2 separate regions of the Homo sapiens genome follow, and region 2 is linked to region 1. Evidence: fine-mapped expression QTL. Tissue or cell type: esophagus muscle. Region 1 holds a variant in brackets; the other region holds the start of a gene. All regions are shown on one strand. Distances are from middle to middle.

Region 1 (8,263 bases):
CCACCACCTGGCCCAGGCCACTCGCTTCACCTGCCTGGCCCTCTACTGGCATTTGAGTTGGTGAGTCCTGCAGGAAAACACTGGTTCACGTTATTAAATATGTCCAATTGGCTACACGTTTTGACTGTGCACGAAACTCCAGCTCGGTCTTCACTTACAGCTTTTGCAGGTTTAGCTCCTGTAGCAAGATCCAACATCTGATCTCACAGCTTCACAATGACAACCTGTCTGTGAAGAACATCCCAGTTTTCCAGTGTGCCCCCCTACCCTCTGGTTTATTTAACCTTCCCAATATTCCAGGAAGGCTGGGCTTATTGTCCAAAATAGAAGGGCGATCAACCAGCTAACAGGAACTAAAACCGGGATTTCAACTCAGGACTTGGGTTCAACCTTAGCTTAGCATTTCCCACCATACCTACCACGCATCCCTCAATCCCTGGAGGCGGCTCTGATTCCAGACTGACCCAACCGGAGGAGGCTCAAGTCCAGGTTGCAAAGCAGCTGGGCTGCTCTGGAAAGAGCGTTTGGAATCCTTGCTTCACTTCCGTTTTTAATCTTCTTAAAAAAAACTGTGTAGTAGTGTTTAATCCAAAGACAGCTGATTCCCATTTACACGTAACCTGTTGAACTCACATACTAAATTTTAAAGCTCTGCTCTCGAAAATGCAGTTTGCTCTTTAAGATCTCCTTGGTAACACATCTAACTGGTATCTGAACTACAGAAAAAAAAAAAAAACTTTGGAATCAATCAATGACGGGGGTTAGAATAAAATCCAACTCAGGAAAGTACCGAAGAAAGTTCCAGAATGACAGCTGTGTAGCCGACCCAGAGAACCACCTGTGTCTGGAATGGAGGAGGACTGGTAACTCCCAGGAAAGGGGACTCTCCAAGTTAAAAAGGGGACTCAGGCTGGGTGCAGTGGCTCACACCTGTAATCCCAGTACTATGGGAGACTGAGGCAGGCAGATCACCGTGAGGTCAACAGTTCAAAACCAGCCTGGCCAAGATGGTGAAACCCCATCTTTACTAAAAATACAAAAATTAGCCAGTGTGATGGCGGATATCTGTCATCTCAGCTACTCAGCAGACTCAGGCAGAAGAATCACTTGAAGCCGGGTGGCGGAGGTTGCCAGTGAGTTGAGATCGTGCCATTGCATTCCAGCCTGGGTGACAGAGCGAGATTCCGTCTCAAAAAAGAAAAAAAAATACCACTTGAACTTGCCACAAACAATATTTACAGACACAACAATGCCCCTATTGATTGACTGGCTGATTTTCAACTACACACAAAGCATGAATCCCGGTGACACAACACAATGTAAATACGAACAACCTTGACAAAGCTAAAGGTACAAAAAATAGGAAGGAAGTGCAGGAGACCTGATGGGCAGGATAGAAAGACACCAACGTTCCCAAAGTCCTATTGAAGGATAAGGAGTAAAGGCATAAACATGTTATTAAATGCTAAAAGTGTAACCAGGAAAACCGTAAATGGTGGTATACCAAGAGGACAAAGAAAGTTGAGTTTGCTTTTTTTTTTTTTTTAGACAGAATCTCGCTCTGGTTGCCCAGGCTGGAGTGCAGTGGTGCGATCTCGGCTCACTGCAACCTCTGCCTCCCGGGTTCAAGTGATTCTCCTGCCTCAGCCTCCTGAGTAGCTGGGACTACAGGTGTGAGCCACCACGCCCAGCTAATTTTGTATTTTTAGTAGAGATGGGGTTTCACCATGTTGGTCAGGCTGGTCTCGAACTCCTGACCTCATGATCCGCCCGACTCAGCCTCCCAAAGTGCCGGGATTACAGGCGTGAGCCACCGCACCCGGCTGGTGAGTTTGCTTTTAAGGGAGCTAAATCGATCTCTAGCCTAGCAGAAAACCAACACATAATGTTGAAGTTCGCCGGGTGTGGTGTCGCACGCCTGTAGGCCCAACGACACAGGAGGCTGAGGTGGGAGAATTGCCTGAGCCTAGCAAGTCGAGGCTGCAGTGAGCTGAGATCGCGCCACTGCACTCCAGCCTGGGCGACAGAGCGAGACTCCATCCAAAAAAAAAAAAAAAAAATTAGCTGGGTGTGGTGGTGTGTGCCTGTAATCTCAGCTACTGGAGAGGCTGAGGCAGAAGAAATGCTTAAACCTGGGAGACGGAGGTTGTAGTGAGCAGAGATCACACCACTGCACTCCAGCCTGGTGACAGAGCAAGGCCCTGTCTCAAAAAAAAAAAACAAGAAAGATAAAGTCATATAATAAGCCTATGTATACTACTTGATTTTGTTTTCGCCATAAGCACATGTTATTTATTTTAAAAAAATTTTTGGCCGGGCGCAGTGGCTCACACCTGTAATCCCAGCACTTTGGGAGGCCGAGGTGGGCGGATCGTGAGGTCAGGAGATCGAGACCATCCCGGCTAACACAGTGAAACCCTGTCTCTGCTAAAAATACAAAAATTAGCCGGGCGTGGTGGCAGGCGCCTGTAGTCCCAGCTACTCGGGAGGCTGAGGCAGGAGAATAGCATGAACCCGGGAGGCGGAGCTTGCAGTGAGCTGAGATCACGCCACTGCACTCCAGCCTGGGCGACAGAGTAAGACTCCGTCTCAAAAAAAAAAAAAAAAAAAAAATTTTTGGCCGGGCGCAGTGGCTCACGCCTGTAATCCCAGCACTTTGGGAGGCCGAGGCGGGGGGATCACTCGAGGCCAGTAGATCAAGACCAGCCTGGCCAAGACGGTGAAACCCCATCTCTACTAAGAATACAAAAATTAGCCAGGTGTGGTGGTGGGTGCCTATAATCCCAGCTAATGGGGAGGCTGAGGCAGGAGAATCGCTTGAACCTGGGAGACGGAGGTTGCAGTGAGCTGAGATTGCACCACTGCACTCCAGCCTGGGCAATAGAGCAAGACCCTATCTCAAAAATAAAACAAAACGAACAATTTTAGAAATGTTTAATTATTTGGAATCCTGGAAAAAAAAGCTAAGGCAAAGCTGATCTGAAGAGTCTGTCTACCTGCCCAGCTACCAACCCAAACCGGCCTTGTTTTGGTCCTAGGCGGCGGTTCTTAAACTCTGGTCCCTGGACGTACGGCTTCCGGGTTGCCTGGGAACTGTTGCTAGAATTGCAAACTACTGGGCCCCAGCCTGGACCTACCAAGTCAAGAACTCTGGGATGGGGCCCAGGAATCCGCATTTAACCAGTCCTTCTGGTTATTCATCAGTTTGGAAACCGCAGGTCTTCAGCAAAACAAAACTCTGAGGCGGCGTTGGGTCCAGTCGTCGTCTCCTCAGCGAGTAAGGCAGCTTCAGGGGAAGGCCTGAGCCCCTTCTAAGAAAACACAGGCTGGATTTTAAAGGATCTCTAGGGCTAGTTTCCCCAGGTTCTGGGCCCCTGCCCTGTGTGAGCTCTAGTGGGGTCAGCAGCAAGGACCCATCACCGGAAGAGGCTTCTGAGAGGCACCGACTTTTGCCATCAGTGGGCAGCGAGTGGGCTGTGTGGTCCCCGGACAAGCAGCTGAGTGGGTGGGGAGTGCCTTGTTGTGGCCGGCTTCGCATAAGTCATCTGCGCCCGCCACCACGCCAGGCTAATTTTTATATTTTTAGTAGAGATGAGGTTTCTCCATGTTGGCCAGGCTGGTCTCGAACTCCTGACCTCAGGTGATCCGCCCGCCTCGGCCTCCCTCAGTACTGGGATTCCAGGCGTGAGCCACCGCGCCCAGCCCAGCCCGTCCTCTTGAACCTGCTCAGTTTCAGTCGTCATGACCACTTGTAATATCCCTTCCCACTAACATCAAAGGCTGTGGCCCGAAGCTCCCAAGTGGGCGAAAAAGTCCCGAGAGGTTCCAGAAGGCAAGATCATTCTGGGGCCACGAGGACCGAGAAACGACACAACCAACCACAGAACAGAAAACTCTTGTGGATCTGATGTGATTCTGTACTCCAGATTTGCAGTTACCACTTACAGAAGCCAACGTCCACCTCTGAAACACAGAACCCCCTAACTGGTGCGAGGCAGCTGAAGACAAAGTTGAGGCCTTTGGGAGAAGAGCTCGGCCAGAGGAGGAAATCTGATTAGTAAAAAGATAGGCAGCCAAGAAGTAAATTAAATGAATGCTCACAGAGAAAGCACTCGAGACAGGAGCGGGAGAGACTCCGGGCACACATCGCGACAGGGACAGAAAAGCTTTCAGGATGGGGGTGGGGGAAGGGGAAGAACTGGTTTTCTAATATTAGACTCACGACATGCTCACTTCCCAAATCCCAGCCAAAATGAGGGCCCCTTGACTCCGACAAGCCCAGGCCACCTTCTGCTTGGATACACACTTTCTGCACCAGGACTCTGCGTGAATGCCAAGGCAAATTCCATCCCTCTCAACTCCCCACCGCAACACCAAATGACTCACACAGCTTATCTTGAAATTCCCCCTTTCATCTTGGCCTCCCACTAACTTAAAACAATGCAATAAGAACACATTCAAGACACCTCCAGTAAATCCATATCCGTATTATTCACGAGGCACTAACTAGAAAGCTGTTTATCCTGAAGCCTACGTGGTCAACTTTAGAAATGTGCCTTCGTGTAAGCTGGTTTTTATAAAATAAATAAAAAGCCTCCACAAATACCAGAACACTTATCAATTTGGACTAAAGTCGTGGATTCCAATACAAGCAGCCAAGGTCCTCAAGCCTCAAGCATAAACATCCCTTGCCTTTTATTAATTGAAAAATAAACAGGAGGGGAAATGGGTGGCATGCCTCACTATGTGATTTAAAACAAATGACACGATGTTCTC[A/G]AACTTCAATTAATTTTTAAAAAGGCATTTTATTTTTCACTTTATGATTATAAAAGTCATACATGCAGACTATGGGGAAATTTAGAAAGTACAATAAGAAGGCCAGGCGCCGTGGCTCACGTCTGTAATCCCAGCACCCCGGGAGGCCGGGCGCGGTGGCTCACGCCTGTAATCCCAGCACTTTGGGAGGCTCAGGCAGGCGGATCACGAGGTCAGGAGATTGAGACCATCCTGGCTAACACGGTGAAACCCTGTCTCTACTAAAAATACAAAAAAATTAGCCGGGCGTGGTGGCGGGCACCTGTAGTCCCAGCTACTGGGGAGGCTGAGGCAGGAGAATTGCGTGAACCCGGGAGATGGAGCTTGCAGTGAGCCGAGATAGCACCACTGCACTCTAGCCTGGGCAACACAACGAGACTCTGTCTCAAAGAAAAAAAAAAAAAGTACAATAAGAAGAAAACTTACTTCTGGAAGTAAGAGAAGTATAGAAAGTCATTTCTGGAAAAGACGCTGAATTGGTGACTTACAGTCAAGAAATTCCCAAGTCTGGCCAAATTCCAACCCAAATTCTCGGCCAGGCACAGTGGCTCATGCCTGTAATCCCAGCACTTTGGGAGGCCAAGGTGGGTGGATCACCTGAGGTCAGGAGTTCGGGACCAGCCTGGCCAACACGGTGAAACCCCATCTCTACTAAAAATACAGAAATTAGCTGGTCGTGATGGCACGCACCTGTAATCCCAGCTACTTGGGAGGCTGAGGCAGGAGAATCGCTTGAACCCGGGAGGCGGAGGGTGCAGTGAGCCGAGATCGTGCTATTTCACTACAGCCTGGGTGACAGGAAGACGCCATCTCAAAAAAAAGAAAAGAAAGAACATTCTTTTAGCCCAGTCCCAAGCGGACTGTCTGGACAGAGTCCTCACTTGCTGCCACTCATTATTGCATCATTTTGCTGTGCTCTTTATTTTTTTTTATTTATTTATTGTTTTTTGAGATGGGGTCTCTCACCCTGTCTCCCAGGCTGGAGTGCAGTGGTGTGATCTCGGCTCACTGCAGCCTCCACTACCCAGGTTCAAGTGATTCTCCTGCCTCAGCCTCCTGAGTAGCTGGGATCACAGGTGCATGCACTACCACGCCCAGATAATTTTTGTGTTTTTACTAGAGACAGGGTTTTACCATGTTGGCCAGGATGGTCTCGAACTCCTGGCCTCAGGTGATCTGCCCACCTTGGCCTCCCAAAGTGCTGGAATTACAGGTGTGAGCCACCGCGCCCGGCCTTGCTGTGCTCTTTAAACAGCCGCAGGACTCTGCTCCAATTCCTTCGTATCTGGGAATCCTCTGGCACAAAACCCCCACCTCCTATATCATGTGGTCTGTGTGACAGCCAGAAACCCCCCAGCTGAAGAACACTGAGAAGTGGGAGGCTTCCGCTCGGTCATGGCCGGCGGGACAAGGAGATGCTTAAAGGTCTGGCAAGGTTGTAGGAAAAGACCAAGACACTTCAGGATCCAGCTTTAGGATGTGCTGGCGGCTGCAACAAACATGCACTCTGATCAATGAGCTCTGCGCTCATTCACTCCACACGTGTTTACTGAGCGTCTACTGTGTCTAAGACCCTGAGCTCTGCAGAACACGCCCAGGAATCACAGAAGGAGCTTGCTCTGAGAGCTGGGAGAGCCTGCTATTCATGCGGGTATTGACTGTTGCCATCCTGCAGAACAAAGCCAGCTTTCATAACATCCCACTAGATACCATGCCAGCCACATCCTTGCCTGGAATAAAACCTGCAGCCTAGGCCGGGCGCAGTGACTCACGCCTATAATCCCGGCACTTTGGGAGGTGGAGGCAGGTGGATCACCTGAGGTCGGGAGTTTAAGACCAGCCTGACCAACATGGTGAAACCCAGTCTCTACTAAAAATACAAAATTAGCTGGATGTGGTGGTGCATGCTTGTAATCCCAGCTACTCAGGAGGCTGAGGCAGGAGAATCGCTTGAACCCAGGAGGTGGAGGTTGCGGCGAGCCAAGATCGTGCCACTGCACTCCAGCCTGGGCAACAGGGCAAGATTCCATCTCAAAAAAAAAAAAAAAAAAAACCTCCAGCTCCTGCTTGTGCTTCCATCGATTGTCCTCCAAAAGATGGCTGGAGTGTGTCCCTCTCACCAGCACGCCACTCGATTCAACCTATGGACTCAAGACACGCCATCGGGCTCAATGCTGTGGGGCCTGGTGGAAGCAACCTCCTGTTGTTAGACCAGAAACGTCCCCTGCGACAAAGCCTTTGGTTTTGCTTTGTGTTCTTCTCCCGTGGGGTGGAAGAGCCGCCCTCCCTCTGAGGCACTGCAGCGACGGGTGCCCTGGTGAGTGTCCACGGTGAGGTGGTGAGTGTGCACCACACACAACCCGGCCAGCATCTGCCCAGGTCAAGCCCATCCTGTCAGTGCACACGCCGCGTGCTGCCACCACCCAGCTCGATGATTCTCTCCTTCCACACCTTCCGGTCCCCAAAAGTGACTGAAAGCAGGATTCTGCTGCGGAAAAACTGGACTTGGAGGAAGGGCAGGAGAGAAGGGCGAGGTGTGTCGGCCTGCCTCAGGTCTGGGGTGCCCAATTCTGGTTGTGCAAACAGTGAGGGAAAAAAAGGGTGCTACGATGTCTGGCTAAAACGGGGCATCAGAGCTGTCGGCGGTACCAGTTTTCAGAATCCATGGATTTATAACGGATTTCTTTTCTAACTTGCAAACGCATACGAGATACTTCACAGAGGTATTACAGTTAAGTCACACTTCCCCACATAAGCTCACCTTTAATGAAAAAGTTAAAATGACATAAAACTGGGAGTGTTCCAGAAAAGGCAGGCCTGTGTTCACCATCACAACACCTATGGATAGAAAAGAGGCAGAAAGGCCGGGTACGGTGGCTCACGCCTGTAATCCCAGCACTTTGGGAGGCTGAGGTGGGAGGATCAGCTTGACCCCAGGAGGCCGAGATTGCACAACCGCATTCCAGCCTGAGTGACACAGTGAGACTCTGCAGCCTTTACTGCAGCCTTTGCCTCCCGGGCTCAAGTGATCCTCCCACCTCGGTGTCCTGAGTGGCTGGGATTACAGGCACCCAGCACCACGCCCGGCTGATTTTTTGTATTTTTTGTAGAGATGGGGTTTCATCATGTTGGCCGGGCTGGTCTCAAACTACTGAGCTCGGGTGATCCGCCCGCCTCGGCCTCCCAAGGTGCTGGGTGCATTTTTTCTTAAGGAAGAAAAAGGAGGGCAGGGGGCAAGGTGCAGGGCAAAAAAGAAGAGCCCAGGAGTCCAAGAGGGAAGCGGCCAGAGGAAACGGAAGGAATCAGCTTCCAACAGGGACCCACAAGGCTGCTTGAGAACTCAGGACACAAGGAACACACCTGGAGAAGGGGGCTCTGCGGTGATCCGTACACAGTGAGAACCAAAGGGGCAGCTTCAGGGAAAACAGGTGGGGAGGGACAAAAGGAG
Region 2 (8,000 bases), 47 kb after region 1:
TTTGTTCCACATCTCTTTGGTTTCAAGGGGGAAAATAATTCCTTTTTTTTTTTTTTTGAGACAGAGTTTCGCTCTTGTTGCCCAGACTGGGGTGCAATGGTGCGATCTCGGCTCACCGCAACCTCCGCCTCCCAGGTTCAAGCGATTCTCCTGCCTCAGCCTCCCTAGTAGCTGGGACTAGAGGCATGCGCCACCAGGTCTGGCTAATTTTGTATTTTTAGTAGAGACGGGGTTTCTCCATGTTGGTCAGGCTGGTCTGGAACTCCCGACCTCAGGTGATCCGCCCACCTCAGCCTTCCAAAGTGCTGGGATAACAGGCATGAGCCACCGCACCCGGCAATAATTCCTTTTAAAATCAGCACGTAGCTTTTGTAATTTCCAAGAGTATGTGTTCCATAAGAAGGACAGCTGGAGTCTTTTTACCTGGTATATATCCCCGAGAAAGATCTTGAGTGGTTTGTTCACGACCAAGGAAAGAAACTACCTCCTTGAAAACTGGACTGGTTTTAGAGAATAAAGTATAGGATGTGAGTCAGAAAAACTCTGGGCCAAAAAATAAAATGTTTAAGATGCTAACGCACCAGGGTTTGGGCACGTCCAGCACTCTCAACGGTATTTTCAAATGAGAGTCTGCCCTGTGTCATCCAGGTTCTCATCATGGAGGAATCAGCAGGTCCAGGCTAGGGCCGCAGAATACTTTTTGTCATGCAAAGAGCCTGTCCAGGGTATAGAGAGCCAGCCATGGCCCATGTCCTATCAAATATTCTCCTTTTTCGGAAAAAGCTCTAAGCATTTGCAAAACATCTGTTTGCTCCATATTTTTACTATCCAAAAAATGTATTTCCTCTTCAGTAAAAAACACAACAATAGGCTGTTAAGCCTGTAACATTTTACCATAATTCTATGTTTTCAAAAGCTAGAAATCATTTGTATTGCCGGATAAGGACATTATTTTAAGTAGACTTTAGTCTACAACAGAAACTTGCCGTAACAATGAAAATGTTTTTTGGCAAATCCCTTTCTGAACATTATTTCTCCACGAACGTATCACAAAAACCACCACCAAGGAAAACAAAGGATTCTCGTATTTTGAATCAAAAAGTACTGGCCATGCATATTCATACTATATCAAGCATGTCAATCAAAATGGGCAAAATAACCTAAAAAGCAGTAAAAATGCCAACTCTTGCCTCTGAGTGGTTAGTGAACCTATGTTTTCCCAATATGAAATTTACAAACTGCATCGGATCAACTGTATTTCATACTTTAAATCTCGAATCTCTACCTCCCACTGCTTCGGGATGGATGATTTACTCAAGACATTTGGGGTCACAGTGTAAGCCTTTTGCTCCCAGTAAATCTAAATCATGCTTCTCAACAAGATTCTGCACATATAAAAGGAACACGTGGCACGCCTCGCCATGCTCCCCAGAGGAAACTAAACGCCCCCAGAATAGCCCTTCTGTCCACTCCAGAAACAGGCTTTCCTCAAAAAGGGAAAGGGGCTGGATTCACACGTTGCATCATATACACTCACGAAGCAACAGCGCTCCAAAACTTTTTCTGACTCCATTCATTACAAAATGTCCTGGATGTGCTTTATTATCACAGAGACAGACATCCTCACCCAAGGGACACACTCAGAAACCCAAACTCAACTCGGCAGCAAACTGGGAGACACGAGAAGTTGACAGCAAAGTATCCATTTCCCCAAATCCTCCTTCTTCCAGTCAATGTGCATCGATGGGGTCAGCTCAGCCCTTAACTCGAAGACCCCGGGACCACAGGGGCCACCACGCAGCTGAGCTCTGCACAGCCCGGGCTGTTCCCGCGCCCGGGAGGCGTCTGGGGAGGAGGCTGGACGGCCAGACAATGCAAAGCTCCCCGGTGGCCGCGAACTCAGCCTGGGGCGGGGGAGGCGGGGGCGGGAGACGGAGCCGTGAGCGCCCTTCTCGGCCACAGCCACGGCCACGGTCACCGGCCGCCTCTCCTGACCTCGGCCTCGGCCCCCAGGTCCCCGGTCCCCGGGGAAGGGGCTCCGGGAAGGCAGGTTTCTCCCGGAAAGAAAGGAAACGCGCTGGTTTGGGCGCCACGGGCGGGGGGCGTGCGCCCTCCCCTCCCCTCCCCTCCCCACTGTGGGAATCCGCGGGGGTCGGCGGCGGAGGCAGGAAGGGCCTGGCGCCTCTGCTCGCGGGTGAAGGGGTCGCGGAACCGGGATCCCCGAGCGCAGCCGCCCCCACCCGAGGCTCCCAGCGTGTGCGGACGGAGGGGCTCGAGCCGGGATCCCGGGGGCCGAGGGGGGTCCAACTTTCCAGGGCGGGCGCAGCGCAGCACTCGAACCAAAGAGGGGTCCTGGGATGAGGGTGCGGGCACAGCGCGGAAGGGGGGGGGGCAGAGGCGGGGACGGCGGGGTGGGGGGCGGGGAGAGGACAGTGGGTCGGGGGGCGGGGGACTGGGGGCAGGGGTCGGGGGGTGGAGGGCGGGCAGGGGGACAACGGGGTTGGCGGAGGGCAGGGGTAACGGGCGTGGGGGGCGGGCAGGGGTAACGGGCGTGGGGGGCGGGCAGGGGCCGGCGAGGCCCGCGCCGCTCACCTTCCTGTGCTTCTCCTTGTAGGGCAGCGCCAGCCACGGCATGTCCCGCACGAAGTCCTGCCACTGCCGCTGGTCCTGGTCCGAGGACACGAAGACGATCTCCAGGCGCCGCCGCGGCTCGGGCTCCGCCGCCGCCCCGGCCCCCGCTCCCGGCCCCGGCCCGGCCGCCGCGTCCCCCCGCAGGCGCCCGTAGAAGGCGGCCAGGCTGGCGCTGAGCTGCGCGCAGGGGGCGCTGAGGCTGCAGCCGAAGTAGAGACCCAGCAGCGAGATGCCGCGGGCGCCCAGCGAGTGCACGTCCACCTCCTCGCCGCCGCCCGTCACCAGCTTCTCGCCGAGCAGCTCCTCCAGGAAGCCCGACATCCTGGCCCACCGCAGGGCGGGCAGGCGGCTGCGACCCCGCTCCACGGTCCGCGCGGCGGGAGGAGGCGGCGGCGTCGGCGGCAGGCGCTGGGGAGAGCAGAGCCCGGCCCAGTAGGGCCGCCCACGCCACGCCCCCTCCGCCTGCCCGCGCCACGCCCCTTCCCCCGCCCTGCCACGCCCCCTCCGCGGCCCGCGCCACGCCCCTTCGGCTGCCCTCGCCACGCCCCTCCGCCCGCCCTCGCCACGCCCCCTCCGCCCTCGCCACGCCCCGTTTGCGGCCGGCGGTGGCCAGAGCTCTCCGCCCAGGCGGGGTCCGCAGCTGCCGGCCGCGGTGCGCGGGGTGACTGCTTGGGCGAGAAGCCGGACCCGAAACGCCGCACTCTCCCTGGAAAGCCCACGGCCGAAGTGAAGAAAGGAGAAGGGCCCGCTGAGCCGGCGCTTTCCCGGGCTGCAGCCCGGCCCGCATTTTCTCTCCTCCCCAGTTCTAAATTCCCTCCAGACCTCCAGGGATCCCGCCCCCTCCCCGCGGAGCTCTTCACCCTCTTCCTGTTCCTCCCCGGCCTTTCCCTCCTCCTCTCCCTGCACGAAGCCTGACCCTTAGGCCGCTCCGGGCCCCACTGACCCTGAGATGCTTATAGGACCCGCCGTCCTCACTGCATCAGGCCGGGCCTGGCTGGACACTGACTCCTCTGTGTGTTCCAAGCTGTTCTAAGGGGGCCGAGGACGCCCTCGCAGCTTCTGGTGGGGTCTGGTTAGGGTGCCAGGTCTCAGTGTGGGATTTCCGTCCAGGGGTCGCCGGGGCCTCTCCCCCCAGCGAATCTGTCTTCCAGCCCCACAAATGGATGCAAAGGACGCCGCGGGGCCTCCAGACCAATGCTGGCCGCGCTCCTGAATCCGCTCCATCCTCATGTCAAGTCTATGGATAGTTGAGAACATTTCTAGAGATTTTTTTTTTCCTACCAGCTGGCAGGATGCTCCCCAATGCTTAGGGAGAAGCTGGATTAAACAGGTGGTCTGGGCCGGGCGCGGTGGCTCACGCCTGAATTCCCAGCACTTTGGGAGGCCGAGGTGGGTGGATCACAAGGTCAGGAGTTCGAGACCAGCCTGGCCAATATGGTGACACCCCCCCCCCGCCTCTACTAAAAATACAAAAATTAGCGGGGTGTAGTGGCAGGCACCTGTAATCCGAGCAACTCAGGAGGCTGAGGTAGGAGAATGGCGTGAAGCCGGGAGACGGAGGCTGCAGTGAGCCGAGATCGCTCCATTGCACTCCAGCCTGGGCAACAGAGCAAGACTCCGTCTCAAAAAAAACAAAAAAACAGGTGGTCCGTGGCGAGTACTCTGGCCACGCAGCGCCTCCCCCCAACCCAACCCACTGGTGCACGAAGCAGGTGCAGATCCGGGCCCAGCCACAGTAACAGGCCGCCGGTGTGGATCAGCTACTGACGACTCAGCGAAAGCAAAAAAATAAAAGCTGAAAACCCGCCCCTCTCAGAGCTTCCACCGCCGCTTCGGAGGATATTTCCTGTGCATCCATCGCCACCTAATGGAAAGAGTGAAAAATGAGGCCGACCAAACTCCATTTGTGAAAAGACACTGCCGGGACACCAGGCACAATGCTTTTATTTTACAGCAGCTTTCCACATACACAAATGATAGGACGCTTTGCGGGAGCTAATTTAAACCTCAGAATAGAACTTCAAGCTTTTGGCACAAAACGTAAGTGTTCACATCGAAGGTTCTCCGTTTTTCTAGGGTAGAATAAGGAATGGTGCAGGGTTCCAGCTTGGTGAAATGTTACCATATAAAACAATTGGGAGAGGTGGAGATGGGAGCGGAAAGTGGACTGGCGTCTCTACAAGTTATATCCACTTCCTTAGTCACCTGCTGGTATTGCTAATGACACAGGTAAGATCTTAGATGGAGGACCGCCTTCGAACACCCTAGAATCCTACTGCAAAGTCGAATTCCACCTTAATTCTCAGGAGACTTTCATGCTGAAAGTCTGTGCCACTGTAGGGACAATATTATAAAACACACACAGAAAGCATCACTTTTTAGTGAAAACTTTATTTATTTATTTATTTATTTATTTATTTATTTTGAGACAGTGTGGGCGGCAGGCCACCCAGGCGCTGAGGCAAGAGACCGAGGACACAAGCCGTTCCAGTGTAATAAAATATAAAATAAGAATAGTTATACCAGATATAGATCTTAGATAGGCTTATATATGAATATCATTAATCATTAGTTTGTAGCAATTACTCTTTATTCCCATATTATAATGATCCTCGCTCTATAATCATAATCTAGGGAAAACCAGGCCATACAGAGATAGGAGCTGAGGGGACATAGTGAGGAGTGACCAGAAGACAAGAGTGCGAGCCTTCTGTTATGCCCAGACAGGGCTACCAGAGGGCTCCTTGGTCTAGCGGTAACACCAGCGTCTGGGAAGACACCCGTGGCCAGGCGGACTGTGGTGTAGCGGTAGCGTAAGTGTCAAGGAAAAACACCCGCTACTTAGCAGACCGGGAAAGGGAGTCTCCCTTTCCCCGGGGGGAGTTTAGAGAAGACTCTACTCCTCCACCTCTTGTGGAGGGCCTGACTGCAGGTTCGCCCACAATTATCCGGAGGCCTAACTGTCTCCCTGTGATGCTGTGCTTCAGTGGTCACGCTCCTAGTCCGCCTTCATGTTCCATTCTGTACACCTGGCTCTGCCTTCTAGATAGCAGTAGCAAATTAGTGAAAGTACTAAAAGTCTCTAATAATGGTGGAAGCTGTTTCTCTCTTTGTCTCCTCTCTCTCTCTGCCTCGGCTGCCAGGCAGGGAAGGGCCCCCTGTCCAGTGGACACGTGACCCACATGACCTTACCTATCATTGGAGATGGCTCACTCTCCTTATCCTGCCCCTTTGTCTTGTATCCAATAAATATCAGTGCAGCCTGGCATTTGGGACCACTACCGGTCTCCGCGACTTGGTGGTAGTGGTTCCCCAGGCCCAGCTGCCTTTTATCTCTTTGTCTTGTGTCTTTATTTCTACACTCTCTCGTCTCCGCACACGGGGAGAGACCCACTGACCCTGTGGGGCTGGTCCCTACAGACAGAGTCTCACTCTGTTGCCCAGGCTGGAGTGCAGTGGTGCGATCTCAGCTCCTGCAACCTCTGCCTACCAGATTCAAGTGATTCTCCTGCCTCAGCCTCTCGAGTAGCTGGGATTACAGGCATGCACCACCTCCCAAATAGCTGGGATTACTGGCATGCACTAATTTTTTTGTTTTGTTTTGTTTGTTTGTTTTTTGCAACAGAGTCTTGCTCTGTTGCCCAAGCTGGAGTGCAGTGGCGCGATCTCGGCTCACTGCAAGCTCCGCCCCTCCAGGTTTAAGCAATTCTCTGCCTCAGCCTCTGGAGTAGCTGGGATTACAGGCGTCCGCCACCAAGCCTGGCCAATTTTTTGTATCTTTAATAGAGACGGGGTTTTCACCATACTGGCCAGGCTGGTCTCAAACTCCTGGCCTCAAGTGATCCACCCGCCTCAGCCTCCCAAAGTTCTGGGATTACAGGCATGAGCCACCACCCGGCCTTGGTGAAAACATTTAAAGCTACTCATATCATATATATTAAGTTACTAGGCCAGGTGAGGTGGCTCACACCTGTAATCCCAATACTTTGGGAGGCCGAGGCGGGCAGATCATGAGATCAGGAGATTGAGACCATCCTGGCTAACACAGTGAAACCCCGTCTCTACTAAAAATACAAAAAATTAGCCGGGCGAGGTGGCGGGCACCTGTAGTCCCAGCTACTCGGGAGGCTGAGGCAGGAGAATGGCATGAACCCGGGAGGCGGAGTTTGCAGTGAGCCGAGATCGCACCACTGCACTCCAGCCTGGGCGACAGGGAGAGACTCCATCTCAAAAAAAAAAAAAAAGTATATATATACACACACACACACACACACACACACACACACATAGTTACTAGACATCTTTTGAAATCCTGTAAATGGGTTACAATGTTTTATCATCTCATCCAAATCTTATCTGAAAGGCCCATGCACTGGGTACGTGGGTTAGGCACTACTGAAAGAGTGTTAGAGTCCTACACTCTGACACTTTCAAAATTATGAAAACTACAGAAATGTAAAAGGGCTATCAGCATTTACCTGCTACGGCAGCCAAAGGGCAAGAGGCATTTGGTGTGGAGGCCGGTGAAGAGGGAATTTGGGGGGCTGCAAATATTGCAAATATTCGAGTATTAACTTTGGTATACTTGGTGCAAGTCTGATATAAAGAGGAGGTTTCTTCCATGTGTGACTTGTCTTATTTAACAGGAAAGCACTTTCCACTGGAGTGTGTCCAAACCAGCATCTGGCACCTGGGGAAGGGAGAGTTCGAACACACTGCACATGAAATATAAATAAAATTTAGAGAATTGTGGATGCGGCAGGCCTTGGTTAGAGGCCAAATATCACAGCTGCCTTTTAAAGGGGTGTGGAAAGAGGGGATTTGCAATGGAAATGATCCCAGAATCATAATTGTAGTGGGTGTTATAAGAAGCCCAAGGAGTCATTTGGCATCCTGTGAAGAATTAGCCAGTGTGCTCTGGGCTACAGAAATCTTGCTCTCTGTGTATGTGGTTCTCTAAAGGAGAATGTCCCCACTGGTGTTCAGCTAGCGATGTTACATGAATCGACTTGGCTATTCTGAAAATTATTATTGTTTTAAAATATGTAGGAATGAGCCTCAACATGTATCGCATTCTGTAGAACATATTAGAATTTTCTCTTCAGAAATTGCTTTTGAAGGCACATGAAGTCATACGAAATACACACAGCACAAATATATATTTGTCACTTTTAAGATTCATAAATCACAGTCCTTGGACTTTAGAAAGAGTAGCACACATGATGTGGGCCGGGCGCGGTGGTTCATGCCTGGAATCCCAGCACTGTGGGAGGCCAAGGTGGGCGGATCACCTGAGGTCACGAGTTCAAGACTAGCCTGAGCAACATGGCAAAATCCCATCTCTACTAAAAATTAAAAAATTAGCTGGG

Which allele goes with the higher level. Positions count from the first base shown, and alleles are read on the strand shown. Sizes are in standard deviations (SD) of each study's normalised expression.
For the expression in esophagus muscle of the gene that starts at base 3,050 in region 2, G is the high allele of the variant in region 1 and A is the other (moderate effect, 0.46 SD a copy in GTEx).

The links. PIP is the estimated chance that this variant, and not a neighbour inherited with it, causes the effect.
Region 2: NXN starts here. The variant in region 1 is fine-mapped to the expression of NXN in esophagus muscle (GTEx, PIP above 0.99). The same link has a PIP of 0.9 or more in gastroesophageal junction.

What each region holds. Positions count from the first base shown.
Region 1 is chr17:929,244-937,506 of GRCh38, forward strand. The region is part of intron 1 of NXN (nucleoredoxin); the gene reads right to left. Among named protein-coding and RNA genes, the nearest start is that of NXN, 46 kb to the right of the region's middle. The variant A/G (reference allele first, on the strand shown) is at 4,777.
Region 2 is chr17:976,727-984,726 of GRCh38, forward strand. It overlaps NXN (nucleoredoxin), which reads right to left and starts at 3,050. Exons shown (of 8, transcript NM_022463.5): 1 at 2,593-3,050. The coding sequence starts at 2,952. RefSeq lists enhancers at 1,963-2,898, 4,323-4,617.